Regions from separate parts of the Homo sapiens genome. Here region 2 is linked to region 1. The links come from fine-mapping of genetic effects on gene expression. A gene starts in region 1. The other region holds a variant in brackets. All regions are shown on one strand. Distances are between the middles of the regions. Region 1 holds the start of RFXANK (regulatory factor X associated ankyrin containing protein). Region 2 overlaps NCAN (neurocan).

The links. PIP is the estimated chance that this variant, and not a neighbour inherited with it, causes the effect.
Region 2: its variant is the best candidate, but not a certain one, in a credible set for the expression of RFXANK in whole blood (TOPMed, PIP 0.80).

What each region holds. Positions count from the first base shown.
Region 1 is chr19:19,189,288-19,194,287 of GRCh38, reverse strand. RFXANK (regulatory factor X associated ankyrin containing protein) reads right to left here and starts at 2,030. Exons shown (of 10, transcript NM_003721.4): 1 at 1,734-2,030; 2 at 1,188-1,328; 3 at 155-349. The coding sequence starts at 341. BORCS8-MEF2B (BORCS8-MEF2B readthrough) reads left to right here and starts at 2,136. Exons shown (of 12, transcript NR_027308.2): 1 at 2,136-2,207. It overlaps BORCS8 (BLOC-1 related complex subunit 8), which reads left to right and starts at 2,136. Exons shown (of 6, transcript NM_001145784.2): 1 at 2,136-2,207. The coding sequence starts at 2,171. RefSeq lists an enhancer at 1,164-1,253.
Region 2 is chr19:19,218,027-19,223,540 of GRCh38, reverse strand. It overlaps NCAN (neurocan), which reads right to left. Exons shown (of 15, transcript NM_004386.3): 3 at 4,225-4,626. Among named protein-coding and RNA genes, the nearest start is that of NCAN, 8.8 kb to the right of the region's middle. The variant T/C (reference allele first, on the strand shown) is at 2,492.

The DNA of each region.
Region 1 (5,000 bases):
GCACTCCAGCATGGGCAACAAGAGCAAAACTCCATCTCAAAAAACAACAAAACAAAACAAAACAAAAACGAAAGCAAGACACAGGTTCCATGTGAGGCCTGACATTCCATCATCATGGAATCCCAGAGGGCTAATCCCAGAGGAGGTATCCTACCCTGTGGAGAGGAAACACTGGCATCCGGTTCAGGATTCACAGGCTCAGGGGTGCAGGGAAAGAGACTGAGGACCACAGTGTCTGAGCCATCTGCAGCCTCCTCTCCGGGGTCTTCAGGGTCCCCAAGTTCTGAGGCAGGGGTCTGCTGGGTCTGGATGAGGTCTTCTGCAGGCTGGGTAAGCTCCATGGGGAAAGCTGGCGGAGGTGTCAGAAGGGGAGAGATGACAATAATTATCAACAGTTATAATAAAGTAGGCACCGACTGCATACCTAGCCTTGCACTGTGAGGGTGGGTAAACTGAGGTCCAGGTTAATTACCAGAGCCAGGGAAATGAAAACCAGAGTCCAACTGCTTTCGAGGTCTACCATTCCCCACCACCAAAGCACCTACAATGTGCAATGTTTAAGAGCCTGGGCTCTGGCAGGGCACAGTGGCTCACGGCTGTAATCCCAGCACTTTGGGAGGCCGAGGAGGGTGGATCATGAGGTCAGGAGTTCGAGACCAGGCTGGCCACCATGGTGAAACCCCATCTGTACTAAAAATACAAAAATTAGCCAAGCGCGGTGGCGGGCGCCTGTGATCCCAGCTACTCGGGAGGCTGAGGCAGAATTGCTTGAACTCGGGAGGTGGAGGTTGCGGTGAGCAGAGATCGCACCACTGCACTGTAGCTGGGGCGACAGAGCAAGACTCTGTCTCAAAAAAAAAAAAAAAAAAAAAAAAGAAAGGAAAAAAAAGCCGGGGCTCTGGGGTCAGCTGTCTGGGTTCGAATCCCTCAATTTATAGGCCGTGAGAACTTGGGCACGTGACTTAACCTTTGAGCCTCAGTTTCCTCCACGACAAAATGTGGAAATGAGACCTACAACGAATTATGTCTGTACATAGCTTATCGGGGGATCTGCTAAGCGTGGAGCTCAATAAATATTCGCTATGGTTGTTGGGAGGGGCTCCCCATAATGAGTGACGGCTCAACAAAGGTGCGATTGGTCCCAGTCCCACCCGAGCCTCCTAAATCGATCCAGGAGGTCCACTCACCTCCCCACGAGCCTCCTCTGTCCCCCCGCGCCGAAAGCCCAGTTCTCTCAAAACTTGGGGGCCCAAGTCACAAACTTTTCTCTTCCAATGGATATAGCAGGAGGCAAACTGGAGACCGGACCCTCAGCGATCTGGCTTCCTCTGCCGGGACAGAAAGCAACTTGATACTCGACCGCTACCCCCACCCCAGAGCTCCCCCACTGCGCTTGCGCACCCCCGCCCCCCAAAAGTGAGGAAGGGCCCGGGCAGTAAGTGCTGCCTCTGGCCCTTTAAGACTTAGGGGAGGGCGTGGGTTCCGCTGGGGTCCTGGGAGGGCAGTTGCGCCTGCGCCTTCTTTTCCCCTCCTCACCGACTCGGAGGGAATGGGCGGGGCCTAAAGGGCTCTGAGAATTTCACTACGCCTGCGCCCGCTCACCTTTACCCTGCCCACAGATTTTTCCAGAGGGAGCCAATTGGCTCCGGCTTCGGGTAGATGGGCGGGGCTATCTCAAGAAGAAGAAGTAGGGGAAGTACGCGGGGCGTCTGGAACTTAAAGGGGCAGCGTACCTTGGCCGTCCCGTTCCACAACAAGGTCCCTTCTGCGGTCTCAAAGGCTTATAAGCAAGGGCGGGGGCAGAGGGCTAAAGAAGGGAGTTTTTGCGGCCCGAGTGGGTAATGCGTGGAGGACTCCCCCAACTCGTCTCTCAAGGAAAAGGGGGTTCAGAAAGGGAGAGAGTTCTTCCCCCTCTCCTGCCTGGGTGTCGCTCCACCAGCCTCCTGGCCGTCGCGCCCCCTCCTCACTGCGCCACCCCCGGGTGTGCCTCCTTCCCTGCGTCTCACACAGCCCCTTTCTTGTCCGCAAAGACTGAGGAGCGGGGAGGGCGGGCCCTCTGACACCGGAACAGGAGCCGTGCGGCGTCCGGTTTCAGCAGGGAAGGCTTAGGCGGGCGTCCCAACCTCCGGGCTTCCGGTGCCGTTTCCCGGTTCGCTCGGCCGCGGTCGCTATGGAGGAGCCGGAGATGCAGCTCAAGGGGAAGAAAGGTGGTGCGGGCCTGCGGGCGGGACAGAGGGGGCCGGTAACTTGTGGAGGGGCGGCCTGACAAAGGCCGGGCGCGGAGGGACCGTGCGAGGAGCAGTGATTGAACTGCCGTCCAATCCCAGCTCTGCCGCTGACTAGTTTTGAAACCTGTAGAAAGGCTCCGTGTCTGCTTTAATTACCGGTCCCCCCAGGATTGTTTCAAGAATTCAGTAGCTGAGGCTGGGAGTGGTGGCTTTGTAATCCCAGCACTTTGGGAGGCCTAGGCGGGAGGATCGCTTGAGCCCGAGACCAGCCTAGGTGACATAGTGAGATCTCGTCTCTAAAAAAATACAAAAATTAGCCGGGCGTGGTGGCGCACGCCTGTGGTCCCAGCTACTTGGGCGGCTAAGGTGGGAGGATTGCTTGAGCCCGGGAGGTCAAGGCTGCACTGCAGTGGGCTACGGTCGTGCCACTGCACCCCCAGCCTGGGTGACAAGTGAGACCCTGTCTAAAAAAAAAAAACTCAACAACCTGATATTTGTAATGCATTGGAAGAATCCCCGGGGCGTAGTAATCGCTGTGCGTCTTGTTTCCTTTTTTTTTTTTTTTTTTGAGACAAGGTATCACACTGTCGCCCAGGCTGGGGTGCGGTGGCGCGATCATGGCTCACTGTAGCCTCGATCTCTCTGGCGCGGGCGATCCTCTTGCCTCAGCTTCTCCAGTAGCTGGGACTACAAGTGCACACCACCACATCAGGCTAATTCTTTAATTTTTTTTTTTTTTGACGGAGTCTCGCTCTGTCACCCAGGCTGGAGTGCCGTGGGGGGATCTCAGCTCACTGCAACCTCAGCCCCCTGAGTAGCTAGGATTACAGGCACACACCCCCATGCCCAGCTAATTTTTTTGTATTTTTAGTAGAGACGGGGTTTCACCTTGTTGCTCAGGCTAGTCTCGAACTCCTGACCTCGAGTGATCCACCCACCTTGGCCTCCCAAAGTGCTGGGATTACAGGTGTGAACCACTGCACCCAGCTAATCCCCTATACTTTAAATCACCCTAGATTACTCACATCTAGAATACATAATACAGGCCTACACATCACTTCATTCACATGGATTCAAAGAAGTGCTTCGTGTAGGGCAGATTGAAGTTTTGCTTTTTGAAACTTTGTGGAATTTTTTTTTTCCTATTTTCCATCCACGGTTGGTTGAATCCACAGATTCGGGAACCATGGATAACGGAGGGCATGAGTATGAGGCATGAGCCACCGTGCCTTGTCTGTTATGCTCACCTTTCTTCTTCTTTTTTTTTATTTGAGACGGAGTTTTGCTCTTGTTGCCAAGGCTGGAGTGCAATGGCGTGATCATGGCTCACGGCAACCTCCGCCTCCCGGGTTCAAGTGTTTCTCCTGCCTCAGCCTCCCGAATAGCTGGGATTACAGGCATGCACCACCATGCCTGGCTAATTTTGTATTTTCAGTAGAAACGGGGTTTCTCCACGTTGGTCAGGCTGGTGTCGAACTCCCAACCTCAGGTGATCCTCCCGCTTCGGCCTCCCAAAGTTCTGGAATTACAGGCGTGGGCCACCGCCCCTGGCCGTTATGCTCACATTCAAAGCGAGGAGGCCTATCTGGTAAGAGGTCACACAGTTTGGAGGTGGCAGGCTGGGCTCTGCCACTCAAGGCACAGTGGTGAGATGGAGAGACTTGTGTTAGCCTCCTTTGACTCCCAGACACGCCTGGGTTCTCTCTCCTGAGCAGTCACCCTGGTGATGGCATTGGATTCATCTCTGTAGCAAACTTTGAGGCTGGTGCTGTTATTCTTTTTTTGTGGATGAGGAAGCTGAGGCTCAGAGAAGCTCTGCTCTCCCAAGTCCAAGCTTTTAACTTTTCCTGTGAACATGTAACCTAATCAGTTGAAATTGGTATTAAGAGAAAGGAACAAAATGCCTGCCAAGGTCCTCCGTGAGGTGGAGGGGTCATCTTTTAAGCTTGGTAGTCAGGGAGGGTCTTGCCCAGGAGGTGACATTTGAGCAGACCTGAGGGATGAAGGAGAGCCAGTGACGGAATGGTGTCTCCAGGTGGGAATACCAAGTGCAAAGGCCTTGAGGTGACCAAGTGTTTAGAGCTCTGCTGTAATGAATAAAGGAGCAACTGGTCACATACGGGCATTTAATTTTTTTTTTTTTGGGACAGAGTCTCACTCTTTTGCCCAGACTGGAGTGCAGTGGTATGATCATGGCTCACTGCAGCCTCCACTTGTCAGACCCAAGCAGTCCTCCCACCTCAGCCTCCTGAGTAGCTGGGACTACAGGTATAGATCACCATGACCAGCTTATTTTTGCAATTTTTTATAGAGGTGGGGTTTCGCCATGTCTCCCAGGCTGGTCTTGAACTCCTAGGCTGAATCCATCCTCCTGCCAAAGTGCTGGGATTACAGGCGTGAGCCACCGCACCCGGCGTTGGTCTCAAATTCTTATCCTCAAGTGATCCTCCTACCTTGTCCTCTCGGGCAGTGAGAAAGTTCTGGGCAGTGCTGGGAGGTCCAAGGAAGAGCCAGGGGTGGAGGGCAAGGAAGGCAGGGAGGTCAAGAGCAGCCAGAACATGCAGGGCAAGAAAGGCGGATTTTATTCTCTGGCAGGTGGGAGCTATGGAAGAGTTTAAAGCAAGGGTGGGAATAGATGATTTGTTCATTTGGAGTTTGCCTCACGTGCTGCATGGAGGTTGAACTGTTGGCAGCAGGGGAAGCAGAGAGGCCAGGGAGAAGGTGGATCTGGCATCCAGGCAGGAGATGGCCGTGCCTCGCTGTGCCTGGACC
Region 2 (5,514 bases), 29 kb before region 1:
GGATTGAGCCACTGCACTCCAGCCTGGGAGACAGAACAAGACTCCATCTCAAAAAAACTAAAACATTAAAAAAAAGAAAAGCATTTATAAGCATTATCTTATTGAACTCTTACAACAAATCTGATTGTTCTAGAGGAGGAAACTTAGGGTCAGAAAGGTTGAGGGACAGGTCCAGGCCCACGCAGCAAATAAGAAACAGAACCAGAATTCAAATTCAGAGAGATCTGACTCCAAAGATAGCACTCTTCATGCCCAGGGTTAGGCCCTGGAGGTGGCAGGAGGTGTGGAGAAGGCTGACAGAGAGTTTCTGCCTTTTAGGAATTAAGTGCATGCGCTAATAGGGAAGCACAGGCAGCAATGGGAGACCAAATGTGGTTCTTTTTTATTTATTTATTTATTTTTTATTTTATTTATTTTATTTTATTTATTTTTTGAGACAGAATCTCACTCTGTCGCCAGGCTGCAGTGCAGTGGCGCGATCTCAGCTCACTGCAAGCTCCGCCTCCCGGGTTCACACCATTCTCCTGCCTCAGCCTCCCAAGTAGCTGGGACTACAGGCGCCTGCCATCACGCCCAGCTAATTTTTTTCTATTTTTAGTAGAGATGGGGTTTCACCATGTTAGCCAGGATGGTCTTGATCTCCTGACCTCGTGATCCGCCCACCTCAGCCTCCCAAAGTGCTGGGATTACAGGCATGAGCCACCGCGCCCGGCCCAAATGTGGTTCTTGCCTGGCCTGGAAATGTGGTCCTGGAAGGCTTCCTGGAGGAGGTGACATGTAAGCCAGGATGTGAAGCCCTGGTAACAGGCTCACTGTGATTCAAATTCTGATTTAGGGATGAAAGAAATGGCTGAACAAGACAATGAAATGAAACACTTTGCTCTGGCTTATCCAACTGAGAGCTCTGTGTCCTCAGCATTGGACCAGTACAGTGTAGGTGCTCAATAAATGTTTGGCTGAATGTCCGGGCATAGCAGCTCATGCCTGTAATCCCAGCACTTTGGAAGACCGAGGCAGGCAGATCACTTGAGGCTAGGAGTTGGAAACCAGCCTGGCCAATGTGGTGAAACCCTGTCTCTACTAAAAATACAAAAATTAGCCAGGTGTGGTTGTGTGCACCTGTAATCCCAGCTACTCCAGAGGCTGAAGCAGGAGAATCGCTTGAACCCACGAGGCAGAGGTGCAGTGAGCCAAGATCACACCACTGAACTCCAGCCTGGGTGACAGAGTGAGACTCTGTCTCAAACAACAACAAAAAGAGTTTGGCTGAATGAATGAAATTGAAGTTACCTAGATGTGGAATTCACTTGCCTCACCACCAATCAGTTTGTTGTTGTTGTTGTTGTTAGCTTTTATCAATTTTCAGAAATGAGGCCTCTGAAAGGGGATGACTGGTTGACTCCATAAACTATGTGGTAAGACACTGTGTCCCCAGTTCCCAGTTTGGGGGCATGCAGGTTAAGCCCCAAGACAGGAATCAGGGACTTGCCCAAGGTCAATTTAAGTTAAGGGAAACAGGTTTCCCAGCAGGAGTCCACGGGATGTTTGCTGTACAATAATCCATTCACTGAGTCATTTATTGAGCATCTACTGTGTGCCAAACCCTGTTCTTTATTTTTAGTTTTTGACTATTTATTTATTTATTTATTTGAGTCAGGGTCTCCCTCTGTCACCCAGGCTGAAGTGCAGTGGTGCGATCTCAGCTCACTGCAGCTTCCAACCTTCCAGACTTAAGCGATCCTCCCACCTCAGCCTCCTGACAAGCTGAGACTACAGGCGCACACTAGCATGCCCTGCTAATATTTTTTTAAAAATTTTGTAGAGACGAGGTCTCACCATCTTGCTCAGACTGGTCTTGAACTCCTGGGCTCAAGCAATCCTCCTGCCTTAGTCTTTCAAAATGCTGAGATTAGAGGTGTGAGCCGCCACATCTGGCTTATTTAGTTGTATTATTATTATTATTATTATTTTTAAGATGGAGTTTCCCTCTTGTTGCCCAGGCTGGAGTGCAATAGCACAATCTCGGCTCACCTCAACCTCCACCTCCTGGGTTCAAGCGATTCTCCTGCCTCAGCCTCCCGAGTAGCTGGGGTTACAGGAATGTGCCACCATGCCTGGCTAATTTTTGTATTTTTAGTAGAGAAGGGGTTTCACCATCTTGGCCAGGCTGGTCTCGAACTCCTGACCTCATGATCTGCTGGTCTCGAACTCCTGACCTCATGATCCACCCGTCTCGACCTCCCAAAATGCTGGGATTACAGGCGTGAGCCACTGCGCCCAGCCATATTATTATTATTTTTGAGACAGGGTCTTGCTGTGTTGCCCAGGCTGGAGTGCAGTGGCATGATCAAGGCTCGCTGCAGCCTCGATCTCTTGGGACTCAAGCAATCCTCCCACCTCAGCCTCCTGAGTAGCTAAGACTACAGGAACACACCATCATACCTGGCTAATGTTTTGGAATTTGGAATTTTGTATAGACAAGGTCTCACTA[T/C]GTTGCCCAGGCTGGTCTCAAACTCCTGAGCTTAAGTGATTCTCCTGCCTTGGTCTCCCAAAGTGCTGGGATTACAGACATGAGCCACTGGGCCCCCATCCCCGTTTTTTGTTTTTTGTTTGTTTGTTTGTTTTTGTTTTTCTAATAGAGACAGGGTCTTGCTATGTTTCCCAGGCTGGTCTTGAATTCCTGGCTGAAGTGACCCTTCCTCTTCAGCCTCCCAAAGTGCTGAAACTACAGGTGTGCACTACCACACGCAGCTCAACAAGAAGAATTTAATAAAGGAATTGGTTGCCAGGTGCGGTGGCTCATGCCTGGTAATCCTAGCACTTTGGGAGGCCGAGGTGGGCAGATCACGAGGTCAGGAGATCAAGACCATCCTGGCTAACACGGTGAAACCCCGTCTCTACTAAAAATACAAAAAATTAGCCAGGCGCTGTGGCGGGCGCCTGTAGTCCCAGCTACTCAGGAGGCTGAGGCAGGAGAATGGTGTGAACCCGGGAGGCAGAGCTGGCGATGAGTTGAGATCATGCCACTGCACTCCAGCCTGGGAGACAGAGCGAGACTCCCATCTCAAAAAAAAAAAAAAAAAAAAAAAAGAATTGCCTAAACAGGTATTTGAGAATTGTTCTTGCTTAATATTTAATATACATCTTAAATTAACTTACTTTTAAAAAATTGCCTCACTTAGAAAAAAACTTAAGTTTATTTTACAAGGAATTTTTTATTTCTATTTTAAATAGAAAGCCAGTATCCTTTGTCTTACATAAAATCAGATAACCATAAAATTGACTCCAAGTAAAATCCTGCCTAGACGGAGGATGCAGTGAGCTTAGATAGCACCACTGCACTCCAGCCTGGGCAACAAGAGTGAGACTCCATCTCAAAACAAACAAACAAAAATCCTGCCTAGATATTGTGGCCCCCAGAAGTCTGAGCTGGAGACTCCTCTCTCATAGCTAAAAAAGAGAGGTGTTAAAGACAAGATAGTACCCATACTGATACAGACGTTTTTTTTCTTTTGAGACAGAGTCTCGCGGTGTGGCCCAGGCTGGAGTGCAGTGGCTCAATCTCAGCTCACTGCAACCTCCACCTTCTGGGTTCAAGCAGTTCTCCTGCCTCAGCCTCCCAAGTAGCTGGGATCACAGGCATGCATCACCATGCCTGGCTAATTTTTTTTTTTTTTTTTTAAAGACGGGGTTTCACCATGTTGGCCACACTGGTCTCAAACTCCTGACCTCAACTGATCCACACGCCTCGGCCTCCCAAAGTGCTCAGATTATAGGCACCATAAAGACTTTAGGACTTTATCAGAAGAATTCAAAGGGAATCCCGGTTCAGAGAGTGATTTCTTTCCTTTTTTTTTTTTTTTTTTTTGTGACAGGGTCTCCCTCTGTCATCCAGGCTGGAGTGGAGTAGCCTCAACCTCCCAGTCTCAAGTGATCCTCCCACCTATGCCTCCCAAGTAGCTGGACTACAGGCATGTGCCACCATGCCTGGCTAATTTTTGTATTTTCTGTGGAGACGAGGTTTCACCATGTTACCCAGGCTGGTCTCGAACTCCTGTGCTCAAGCAATCCACCCGCCTTGGCCTGCCAAAGTGCTGGGATTACAGGCATGAGACACCAGGCCAGGTCTCAGGGAGTGATTTCTAAGGTGACATTCAGTGGGTGGGCTCCAGGCTCAGCCCTCCCTCTCCCCGGCCCCCGGCCCCTCCTTTGCCCCCAACTGACCTGTCACCTCCAAGGGCACCAGGTCCTGCTCATCCTCGATGCCCCTCACCACCTGGCAGCGGTACAGCCCAGAGTCACTGGCCCTCAGTGGCCCCAGAAGTAGCGTGGCGTTGGCTCGGCGCCGGGGGTAGGAAGGCAGTGACACTCGTCCCTGCCAGCTTTTGGCCACCCTCACGACATTGTCCTTGGCCACCAGGATGGGCAAGTCCTGTCGCTGGCCCGACGCAGTCCGCACCTTGGTCCACTTTATCCGAGGGGCATCTCGGGCTGCGCTTGGCCGTGGCTGCAGGGTAAAGAGACAGGGCAGGGCCACCAGCTCCGCCAGCGCAGCCTGCACTGACCCAGACCCCAGCTTCTGCATGTGGAGCCCCCTTTCGCTGGCATCGGTGATATCCTGTGTGCCTGGGTTGGAGAAGGTGGAGAGAGGGCCTGATTCAGAGGCAAGAACCAAGCAGGGACTGCTATTTCCCTCTTTTAAAAAATTTTTTAAAAGGGCTGAGCCAGAATTTGAACCTAGGGCCACTTGACCTCAGAATCCAAGCAGTGGCTGGACGCGATAGCTCATGCCTGTAACCCCAGCACTTTGAGAGACCAAGGCGGGCAAATCACCTGAGGTCAGGAATTTGAAACCAGCCTGACCAACATGGAGAAACCCTGTCTTTACTAAAAATACAAAATTAGCTGGGTGTGGTGGCACATGCCTGTAATCCCAGCTACTCAGGAGGCTGAGGCAGGAGAATCGCTTGAACCCGGGAGGCAGAGGTTGCGGTGAGCCAAGGTCGCACCATTGCACTCCAGCCTGGGCAACAAGAGCGAAACTCCATCTCAAAAAAAAAAACAAAAAACTATTTTTAGAGATTGAGTCTCACTCTATCGCCCAGGGTAGAATGCAGTGACATGATCATGATTCACTGCAGCCTCAAGCTCCTAGACTCAAGCAATCCTCCCACCTCAGCCTCCCGAAAGTGCTGGGATTATAGGTATGAGCCACTGTGCCCAGCCCCTTATTATTATTATTCTTTTATTTATTTATACTTTTGAGATGGAGTCTCGCTCCATCTCCCAGGCTGGAGTGCAGTGGCATGATCTCAGCTCACTGCAACCTCTGCCTCCTAAGTTCAAGCAATTCTCCTGCCTCAGCCTCCCCAGTAGCTGGGATTACAGGTGTGTGCCACCACGCCTGGCTAATTTTTGCATTTTTAGTAGAGATGGGTTTCACCATGTTGGCCAGGCTGGTCTCCAATTCCTGACCTCAACTGATCCACCTACCTTGGCCTCCCACAGTTCTGG